2 separate regions of the Homo sapiens genome follow, and region 1 is reported to be linked to region 2. The links are microRNA targets in miRTarBase. Many come from high-throughput screens and were not tested one by one. Region 2 holds a microRNA gene; the other region holds the end of a gene's coding sequence.

Evidence for each region. Region 2 holds the annotated microRNA hsa-miR-5194 (UGAGGGGUUUGGAAUGGGAUGG, at 3,607-3,628, shown strand). A microRNA usually pairs through its seed, bases 2 to 8, with sites in the 3' UTR of a target mRNA and lowers its output. Matches are read on the target gene's strand: a 7mer-m8 pairs with bases 2 to 8, a 7mer-A1 pairs with bases 2 to 7 and ends in A, and an 8mer does both.
Region 1: the mRNA of ZNF609 is a reported target of hsa-miR-5194. Seed matches in the 3' UTR shown: 8mer at 1,095-1,102.

What each region holds. Positions count from the first base shown.
Region 1 is chr15:64,681,038-64,686,335 of GRCh38, forward strand. It overlaps ZNF609 (zinc finger protein 609), which reads left to right. Exons shown (of 10, transcript NM_015042.2): 9 at 272-350; 10 at 655-5,031. The coding sequence ends at 345. Among named protein-coding and RNA genes, the nearest start is that of OAZ2, 20 kb to the right of the region's middle. RefSeq lists an enhancer at 4,505-5,006.
Region 2 is chr8:130,006,616-130,011,987 of GRCh38, reverse strand. It overlaps MIR5194 (microRNA 5194), which reads left to right and starts at 3,535; the gene lies at 3,535-3,654. The region is part of intron 1 of CYRIB (CYFIP related Rac1 interactor B); the gene reads left to right. It overlaps LOC124902025 (a long non-coding RNA gene), which reads left to right and starts at 668. Exons shown (of 2, transcript XR_007061113.1): 1 at 668-1,332.

The DNA.
Region 1 (5,298 bases), not on the chromosome of region 2:
AGCATATGATATTTATTCCTCCCTTGGAGTTTGGGGACTCTTAAATTCCTCCAGAATACTGGCCTTGATAGTCAGAAGAATATGGAACAGGTGTTCCCCAAAGGCAAAGAGAAACAATCAGCTGAGAAATAGAGCCTTATTATCTATCTCCAGCAAATATATCTGGCTGAGTATCAGATTTTTTTTTCTGTCAGCACCCCAAAACTCAGGGAAAAAGATTAATGGAAGGTTTCTGTGAGTGCTACACTAACATGTTCTCCTGCTTATTCAGGGCTTTCTTCTACAGCCATTGTTGCCAGCCAACAAGGCTCAACTCCCTCACTCTACCCACCCCCCAGGAGGTGAGAATGGTAAGTCACTTTTATTAATTTGGGGCAACACATAAAGCCGGGATAGTTGCTACCTGGATCACAGAATCCCTAGGTGAGAAATAGCTATGAGGGGTCAGCAGTCTGGAATCCATGGAACCCTGGCCAAGCCTCTTGTACAAGAGTCTCCCGTGAAGCCATGTGCATCTGAGAGGACCTGTGGAACACAGTGTCCCCTAGGGACCAGTACTGGCCACTCCTACAATTCATTTTCTTGGAGTGCCACCTTGTGGTTTTTTTACCAACAGGCTGAGTGCCTGGTTATCTGTCCATGTTTCCCTTGCAGACACCAAGTGCCCGGATAAAGTCAGCTTCACGGGCCCGGACTGGCTTACCCAAGGAGGTGCTGAAGGTGCCGTTTAGACATCAGTTAAATGGTGTTGATCATCCTGTTTGCCGTTTCCACCATGACTGAAGGCAGACCCTTGGCTATCTCACCTCCACCAGACCTCCGGACTACCTGACCCTACCTCTTCCTCAGGAGCTGGAGAGCTGGTACTTAGCAAAAATATTTATTCTCTCAGCCACAGTTATGACTATTGTGGCCTCTGTGGAGATGAAGGCACGGGAAGCAACCAGGGGAACATGGCCTCAGCCCAGAGAAGCCACTGCTCTGTTCCCCAAGCCCTTGGTCTGCTGCTGGAGCAGTACCAGCCCCCCCGCCCACCAGGGAGGGACCCCCACCCCCAAGCACTGGGTAAGGTCTGAAGACAGCACAGCAGCCATACCCCTCACCATCATTACCACCATCACCAGATTCTGCATCTCCCTAGTGCTTTGCACCCTGGGAATTGGCAGCATGTGGAGGAACTAGAATCTCAGGAAAGAAATTGGGGGTTGTTTTCTACATAATTGTGAAAACAAGGTCTTCAAATGTGGAGACTTCTCCCCATTTACATGAGCACATATAAACGCTCACAACCTAGCCTGGAAAGGAAGACCAAGGCATCTGCCCCAACATGGCCTTGAGCTGCCTGTGAGGCAGGGGGCAGGGGTTCCAACACCAGCACAGGGCTCCCCAGGGACACTGGGAGCAAGCTGGTGCTGGAGCATGAATGACGTCTGTGAAGTAGAACCTGCGTCCCCACTAAGTCCTGCTGCTTCTTATTCCCCAACTCCTTGCCCTTTTCCCTTCCCTCCTAACCCCTTGGTGCCTTTCCCAGGGGGATCCCCACACTGGTCTTGCCTCTTCTTTTCCACTGCTTGGCTCTTAAGCCTCAGGCAGATAAACTAGTATTCCCCCCAGCTTGGGGAACCTTGGAGTCTGCCAGGTCACCTTAGGGCAAGGCCCAGAAGGCAGCCCCTGGGAGCACCCAGCAGTTCTTGGAGATGTCCTGTCATCTAGCCATCTGATATCTTCCTCATTTGAGGCCACAGATATATACAGCCCAATTCCTCTGTCTACAAGTACATGATTTTATATAGCTCAGTCTATAACCTCCATGTGGGCCAATATAAGCTGTGTTTCTTGGTAACACATATTTTGTTTGAGGGGCCACTGGCCATGGGAGGTTATTTGTTCCTTAGACCCTGGAATAACACATCCAAGCCATTACTTATTAGAGTCTCAGAATGTACTCAGTGGAGCTGTGCTTTGAGGCAGCCAACATTTCTCTGCTCTCCTTAGAAATGCAGTCTCCCAATGGAAGCTTTATACTCTTTGTACTGGGAAAGTGAGGATGATTTGGTAGCTTTATTGGGGTCATGTCTTCCCCAAGGTGTGGGGAGCTTAGCTTACTTGGCTTTTGAGGTATCATCCCTCTGTTCTCCCCTCCTATCTTTCCATGACCCTCTGGATTGAGAGAGAGAGATAAAGACTGACAGACACCAGTGTAGGCTGGAAAAGGGAGTGTGTGACCAGAGTGCCAAAAGTGACTAGGAGCAGGAACTTGGCTCCGACTCAGTTTGGAAAATGGGAAATAGGGGACAGTAAGCACAATGCCCAGTAGTAGTTGATTTCCAAGGACCCTGGAACCCTACACTTGAGAGGCTTAGGGTCACCATCTGCTCAAGAGGATCCCCTCTGATCTACAGGCCTTTTCCCTAGGTTTCTGCCTCCTCGTTTTTGTTCAAGTTGGGTTCTGAGTCCTCCCCAAAAACCATTGTTTTAGACCTCTTGGCAGGGCCCCAAAACAGCCTCCCTCATACCCATCATTCCCTCTGCCTTCTGCTGCCCTCATGGGCAGTGCTCTGAGCAGTGACCTCCCTTTCCTCCGTGGAAGTAGCTAGTGCAGACACCGTCATCCCACCCCACCTGAGTCACCCCAACCAAGAGGGTGACTGAATTTCAGCCTGATTATGCCCTCCTGGGGCTCCTGTGAGGTGGAGCCAAGGTTCCCTCTCTGTTCCTGTTTGTTTTTAAATATTGTTGTGTGTTTTGTATCTGTGGCACTGGCCTGCAGCATACTCTGTATATATTGTAAAGAAACCGTTAGGAGTAATTTTCTTTTGCATTGGGCAGGCATGGCCCTGCATTCCTGCCCTTTCCACTCATTCTGTAACACAGAGGACGAACTTCTGTATTAGCTGGGCAGCCTTGGGTTCTCCAGAAGAGAACAGGTTTTTCTTTTCCTTTTTAATTTTTCTTCTTAAACATTTGGCTCTTTGATCCTCATATCCAAGTCTCCCCTGAAGAGTAGGAGCTGCTCAGAAGAGCAGGTGAAAGCCACCATGGCAGATCCTGATGCCTGCCGGGCCTAGTCTTCCCTCTGAAATAACATGAAGCAGCAGCTGTGGAGATTCTTGACAAGTGCTGAGTGAAAGATTTGCTGCCCACCTCTACATGGGGAGGAGAAACACAGGTGGGAGCTACCTGTGGCATCCATGACCTAGTCAGAGGGATGAGATGCTCAGCAGGGGTCCCCATCCTATCCCACCCCACAAACAAAGGCTGGAAAAATTTGCTACCAAGGGCCAAGACCACCAGACCAAGCCTGTTTATGAGCCACCCCTGCCCAGGCCCTCACAGACATTGCTCACGGGGCTTCCCATAGAGGAGAAGCTAAAGAGGGAGGGGGCCTCATCCCCAGATAGATCAGGCAAGGCTTGGAGAGCTGCTCTTTAGGATCCACATCAACTACTTCCTCATTTTAAGGTATGGCAGTTCCCTTCATCCCCTTTTCCTGCCTTGTACATGTACATGTATGAAATTTCCTTCTCTTACCGAACTCTCTCCACACATCACAAGGTCAAAGAACCACACGCTTAGAAGGGTAAGAGGGCACCCTATGAAATGAAATGGTGATTTCTTGAGTCTCTTTTTTCCACGTTTAAGGGGCCATGGCAGGACTTAGAGTTGCGAGTTAAGACTGCAGAGGGCTAGAGAATTATTTCATACAGGCTTTGAGGCCACCCATGTCACTTATCCCGTATACCCTCTCACCATCCCCTTGTCTACTCTGATGCCCCCAAGATGCAACTGGGCAGCTAGTTGGCCCCATAATTCTGGGCCTTTGTTGTTTGTTTTAATTACTTGGGCATCCCAGGAAGCTTTCCAGTGATCTCCTACCATGGGCCCCCCTCCTGGGATCAAGCCCCTCCCAGGCCCTGTCCCCAGCCCCTCCTGCCCCAGCCCACCCGCTTGCCTTGGTGCTCAGCCCTCCCATTGGGAGCAGGTTGGGGCGAGCTGGAGGCCCGGGCTGGAGGGGCAGTGTTGCTGTTCATAGATTTTGTTCCATTGGCGTTGCTCTGTTGAATTTAATTTCAGTCTTCCTGATTCTTCCCTTCTGTAAAGTGTACATTACCAAGTTCCTTGTTTTTTTATATATATATATAAATATATATATATACAAACTGTACTCTTTTTGCCTTTGTACATTCAGGCAAGAAGAGAAAATAAATCTTTTTAAGAGACAATCACAAATCTGTGAGGGCTGCTGGTTATTTCTCCTGGAGTTTGCTGCTGAGCTGCCTCTTCCTTCCTCCCAATTTTCCTGTTCTCCCTCAGCTCTCCTGATCTTCCTGGCCCTGCTCCATATGCATCCTCAGCTTCACTTTCCCTGGCTGATGGCAAGCTGTTGAATCCAGTGTCCAGACTACCTGCCTTGTAACCCTTTTCTGCCCAGCATTGTTTTCTGGCTTGGCCACTGGCTTAGCCCAGGAGCTTTACTCTGTGCCCTGGCCTCCCCTCTCTTCACCTTTAGATTTCCATTCACCGAAGTGGCTTTGGACCCCTGGGTACTCTGGGACCTGTTTCCTGGAGGCCCTGGCTTGGGACACTCACCTGTGAAACTATGCAGCTGGGAGCTCTCTGCCTAAGAGTTTGCACTATTTAAACCTGCCTGGGAGTTAGGACGGATGGTTTTAGGAATGACCGGAAAACTACCCCTAAAACTCCCCCGACATTCCAGCCTCTAGAATGCTCTGATCCAGAGCTCAGTGGATGATTCCCAGCTGGTGGACTCCTGTGGCTACCCCATCAGAACAAGGGCTAAGGGTTTATGGGTCAAGAGTATTTGATCAGAATTTTAAAGGGTGGTATACTCTGAAACACAGCCCAACCAAACCATTGTTTGGCCGCTTTCTCTTTTCCTCTACCTTCCTCATCCCCACTTTTTTCCCTTTCTCTCTACTTCCTCTTCTTAATTGGCTTTGGAATTGAAATATATTTTTAAATTATTTGTTGTATTTATTGAATAAAGTTTTTAATGTCCCTGTTCTTAAATTTAGACTTAGTTTGCCTTTCACACACCACCCCCACCCCCAAAATATTCTACCTTCTAAGTTGCTTTTTAAACTGTAGTGCAGCCTTTTGGGTACCATATTTCTTTCCTGTCAGTGGTCTTCAATAGCAAAAGTTTTTTTTGAAAAGGGAAATCTTGACTGGGTGATTTTTTTTTGAAGAGGGAAATCTTGACTGGGTTTCCAATTTAGCCTTTGTGACTCTAGCCGTATTGAAGAGGAATCACCAATAGGTGGCAGCAGAATCTCA
Region 2 (5,372 bases):
CTGAATAAATGTCAAGAGTAGAGAAATGAGGGAAGAGAGCTTTCTGAACGTGGACATGGGATCCGTGTGGGTGAGTGGGCAGCCAGTCTGTCTGACTCTGCCAGGCCTCAGCGTTCTTTTTTTTTTTAATTATTTTTATTTTTATTTTTAGTTTTGAGATGGAGTCTCGCTCTGTCGCCCAGGCTGGAGTGCAGTGGTGCGATCTCGGCTCACTGCAAGCTCCGCCTCCCGGATTCATGCCATTCTTCTGCCTCAGCCTCCCGAGTAGCTGGGACTACAGGCACCCGCCACCATGCCTGGCTAATTTCTTTCTTTCTTTTTTTTTTGTATTTTTAGTAGAGATGGGGTTTTACCGTGTTTGCTAGGATGGTCTCAATCTGCTGACCTTGTGATCCGCCCGCCTCGGCCTCCCAACGTGCTGGGATTACAGGCGTGAGCCACCATGCCCAGCCTAATTTTTATTTTTTGAGATGGAGTCTTGCTTTGTTGCCCAGGTTAGAGTGCAATGGCATGATCTCAGCTCACCGCAACCTCTGCCTCCCGGGTTCAAGCGATTCTCCTGCCCCAGCCTCCCGAGTAGCTGGGATTACAGGCGCGTACCACCACACCAGGCTAATTTTTGTATTTTTAGTAGAGACAGGGTTTCCCCATATTGGCCAGGCCGGTCTCGAACTCCTGACCTCAGGTGATCTACCCACCTCAGCCTCCCAATGTGCTGGGATTACAGGCATGAGCCATTACGCCTGGCCGCCTCAGCGTTCTTGAAAGCTTCCTGGGCTTCCTTGAGGGTCGGAGAGGGCCACTGAGTAATGTGTGCCAGGAGTCCCCCCGGGGAGCACACATTTCAGATTCTGCTTGTGAGAGTCAGTGGCGGGCTTCTAGAAGGTTCCTAAGGCAGATCTCTTTTGGTTAATGATGGGCTATGTTTTAGTGAGACCTGCTAAGGCCATAGTTCCGGAGGCTTCTAGGTGGTAGAAGCAAGGGAGGGAGGAGTTGGAAGAGAACTTTCCAAACTTGAGTGTGCTGCGCATCACGTGGGGATTGCCTCGGAGGTTCTGAGCAGGGGCTGGGGCAGGGTGAGATGCTGCATTTTGAACACTTTTGCACATGATGCGATGCCTCTGGATTGTAGACCATACTTTGAGTGCAGTGGGCCAGGAGATCATCCAACCTGACCCTCTCCCCTTCATTCATTCAGGAGCCAGGCTGATGCTGATGGTGCAAATCTCTACATGACCCTGGAGGTTTCCAAGTTAGCTTAGAGGAGGAGGCATGCATGCGAAAACACACATATGACAAAGTGACAAAGGCCTAGGATGGACCTCAGGACAGGTGACAGTGGGAGCAGGAAGGGGTGGGAGAGAGACCACCTCTGTCTGCCAGCAGGTGCTGAATAAGCCCAGGAGGGCCTAGATGCTGTGAGCCATTGAGATGGGGCTGCCTTCAGGGAGCGGGGGAGGAGAGGCAGTGTGAGCTGAAGGACTGAGCAGAAACCCCATACTCAGAGTTTCAGGCCTAAGCATCCAGTACTCTAATTTTAACACACAAGGGAACTGGGACCTCCTGGGGGGAAGCATCTTGACCAAGAGGCACAGTCAGGACTGGAACCTAGGCCTCTGGCTCCTGAGCCTGGTTTTTGCTCACCGCTCCACAGTGCCACCCTCTGCATCCACTGCTGTGTTTAGCAGTAAGGCTGTGAGAGCAGGAGGATGCTGAGGACTTTCTCTAGTTCAAAATGTACCTCTGCCCTTGACCTTCGTTCATCAGGGGACTAGGCACTTAAATCCACAGTGAAAAAGAAGGCCCAATGTGGGAAAAGTGACAGCTTTGAAATCAACATAAACCATGCCAGAGACTAATCCTCTTTCTGTCTTTTCCCCCTCCCAGCACCAGCATCCTTTGATAAGAAGGTGGGGGAAGGACAGTGAGGGCCCCGTTGTGCAGAGGAGTTAAGGATGGGAAAGGCTTGGGCGGTAGGAGGAAGAAAAGCTCCATTCTTTCCTCATCTGCCTAATAGAGTCTCCTGTCACTGGCTCTGTCTGGCCGCTTTAAGCTCTTTGGAATTTACATCCAGTGCTCACTCAACAAAGCCTATTGCATGGCAGGGCTGATGGAGCCCTGGGCCTGCTTCTCAGCGCTGCATGACCTTGGGCAAATCACATCCCACTGCAGAACCAGAATTGTCATTGATGAAGCTGGGCTACTATCACCTGCTTCCCTGGAATGTTTGGAGGATTGAGTGGGATAATGTGTATCAAAGCATCTAGCATAGTCTAGCAGAAAGCCTCCATATACACGTCCTTCTCCCATGGGGCATAGTCACAGGTGGGTGAGAGCTGTATGATTTGTCCAGGGCTATCCTTCTGGCAGAGATGGGATCTGAATTTAATGCAGGGGGACAGTTTTTCATGATGCTTTTGGGCCGGGCGCAGTGGCTCACACCTGTAATCCCAGCACTTTGGAAGGCCGAGGCGGGTGGATCACCTGAGGTCAGGAGTTCAAGACCAGCCTGGCCAACATGGTGAAACCCTGTTTCTACTAAAAATACAAAAATTAGCTGGGCGTGTTGGCTGGCACCTGTAATCCCAGCTACTCGGGAGGCTGAGGCAGGAGAATTGCTTGAACCTGGGAGGCAGAGGTTGCAATGAGCCAAAATTGTGCCATTGCACTCCAGCCTGGGTGACAAGAGGGAAACTCTGTCTCAAAAAAAAAAAAAAAGATGCTTTTGAACTCCTCAGATGGCTTTATGAAAAATGAAACACTTTGCCATGTTAGTGGTTGGCGCCTTTGAAAAAGGACAGTGGCAGGTTGAGAAGCAAGGACCTTGGAGCCAAGGAGATCTTTGATTCAGACCCGACTCCCTGACTGTGAAGTCTTTTGCACATTGCATAACCTCTCTTGGCATCTCAGTGTCTGTTTTCCAGCTTGTTGTGGCTCTTAGGTCAGAAGATGTCTGAATATGCCTGACATAGGGTCTAGCATCAGTGAGTGCTCAGTAATTTGAGTCCCTGGTCTACAGAGCCTCAGTGCTGGGACTCAGGGAGAGGAACATGTAGACTAAGGGAAGTTTCTTCACCAGCCCCAGCTTTGCTCAAAACCAGAGTTGAAGTAGAATGCAGAAGACGACGTGGAAGTGAAACTTGGGCAATAACTTCCTAAAATGTCTGCTTTGCTCCCCTGAACTCTGGTTTTGTGTCTTGCCCTCTGCTTCTGGGACACGAGAGACCAACCAGTGTGTAGACAGATCAAACAGGCTTGCAAATGAAAGAATCAAATGGAGATTTCTGTGTTTTCTGAAAAGTGGTATTTTACAGTCATTCCTAAACATGCCTTCATAACTCTCAAGTTTTCAGGTCTTGAGGGAGGAGTGAGATTCATCCTGCCATTCAACAACAGAACAGTCACTGAGTGTGCACCTCCTGTGTGCTAGGCCCCGTGATGGATCCACATGGGGAATGATAGTGTGTGCCCCACAGTCACCCCACACATGTCCCTGAGGCCTGAACAGCTTGGAGAATGAAGGAGTTTGGGTTTATTTCTTTGGGTTAACTTAAACTCAGCCCTTCTAGGCCCATTCTTTTCACTCAGGAATTGGATAAGCTTTTCTGAGGGGTTTGGAATGGGATGGCAGGGAGAGTCACCAGACACCATGAATGACAGGCCAGCAGGTTGATGGTGGCGAGTGGAGCAGGAGCTAGGGAGTGAGGTCACATTTCTGGACTATGTGTGCAGGCAGCTATGGACCTGGCAGAAAGCCCCTCTATTTATTTATTTATTTAGAGACAGAGTCTCGCTCTGTCACCCAGGCTGGAGTGCAGTGGCACGATCTCGGCTCACTGCAACCTCCACCTCCCGGGTTCAAGCAATTCTCCTGCCTCAGCCTCCCGAGTAGCTGGGACTACAGGCGCCCGCAACCATACCTGGCTAATTTTTGTACTTTTAGTAGAGATGGAGTTTCACCATGTTGGACAGGCCAGTCTTGAACACCTGACCTCAGATGATCTGGCCGCCTCGGCCTCCTAAAGTGCTGGGATTACAGGCGTGAGCCACCATGCCTGGCCTGGAAGCCCCTCTTAACAGGGCTCCCATCAGGATCACGTCGTGGGTTTCTGTGATTTTTTTGGTCTCCTTTATGGCAATATTAACTTTCTTTTATGGAGCATGGAGCAAGTGTCCTGTACTTTGTTGTTGTTGCTGTTTTTGGAGATGGAGTTTCGCTCTTGTTGCCCAGGCTGGAGTGCAATGGTGCAATCTCGGCTCAGCGCAACCTCCGTCTCCCAGGTTCAAGCAATTCTCCTGCCTTAGCCTCCAAAGTAGCTGGGATTATAGGCCTGTGCCACCACGCCCAGCTAATGTTGTATTTTTAGTAGCGACAGGGTTTCACCATGTTGGGCAGGCTGGTCTCGAACTCCTGACCTCAGGCGATCCACCTGCCTCGGCCTCCCAAAGTGCTGGGATTACAGGCGTGAGCCACTGCGCCCAGCCATGTCATATACTTTGAATATTTTATTTCTTACTTTCATGGTAACTCTGTGAGGCAGGTAATATTATTCCCGTTTTACAGATGAGGAAACTGAGAAAACCTGGAGGCTGATAAAAAGCAGAGCTGGAATTCAAACATACCAGGCCAGCTTCAGTGCCCACCTCCTGTTTTTACTACCTCCTTTGGGTGAACCTCAAACGTAACTGGAAAAGTCTATGAATGGAGTTGTGTAGCCGAGAGCAGACACTGCTCCTGCTGGACCCTGCTGGGAGAGGGCGGTGGTTTTCTCAGTGGGCATCTCATAACGGCGGGCATCTCAGCAGCCCTCAGGGCCAAGAACCACCTACTGCAAACTCGTCAGCCAAGGAAGCTCAGAATTTATAATTGTGGTTGTAAGTAGATTACTTGAGCTAATGTGAGCAGTGAGGTTTTTGGTAAAGTTAGTGTGAAACTGACTCATACTAATAATCTACCTCTTGATGCATTTGGTGTTGCGATTTGTAGCACTTTGCATTGTCTGCATACATGCATCCCCACTAGAAAAGATTTGGGGGAAAGAAGGGTCCTGAGACCATACACTCTGGGGGATTGAATTTGAAAGGAAAATTTCAATGTTTGGATGCTGGTCCATGTAGACTTGAGCAAATAAGGTGCACATAGGATTTATACCTCTGCTTTCAAGTCCCCCCACCCATTTTCTATATGTGACCTTGCCAGCATACTCTATGCATGTGTTCCCCCTTCTGCAGGATTTCTTTAATCTGCTCATACCTTGGGTGTGCTTACACTTCCTGGGTGGGAGGTTCCAGATATATGTGTGTATATATATACATATATATATACATATATATATGTATATATATACACATATATATGTATATATATACAC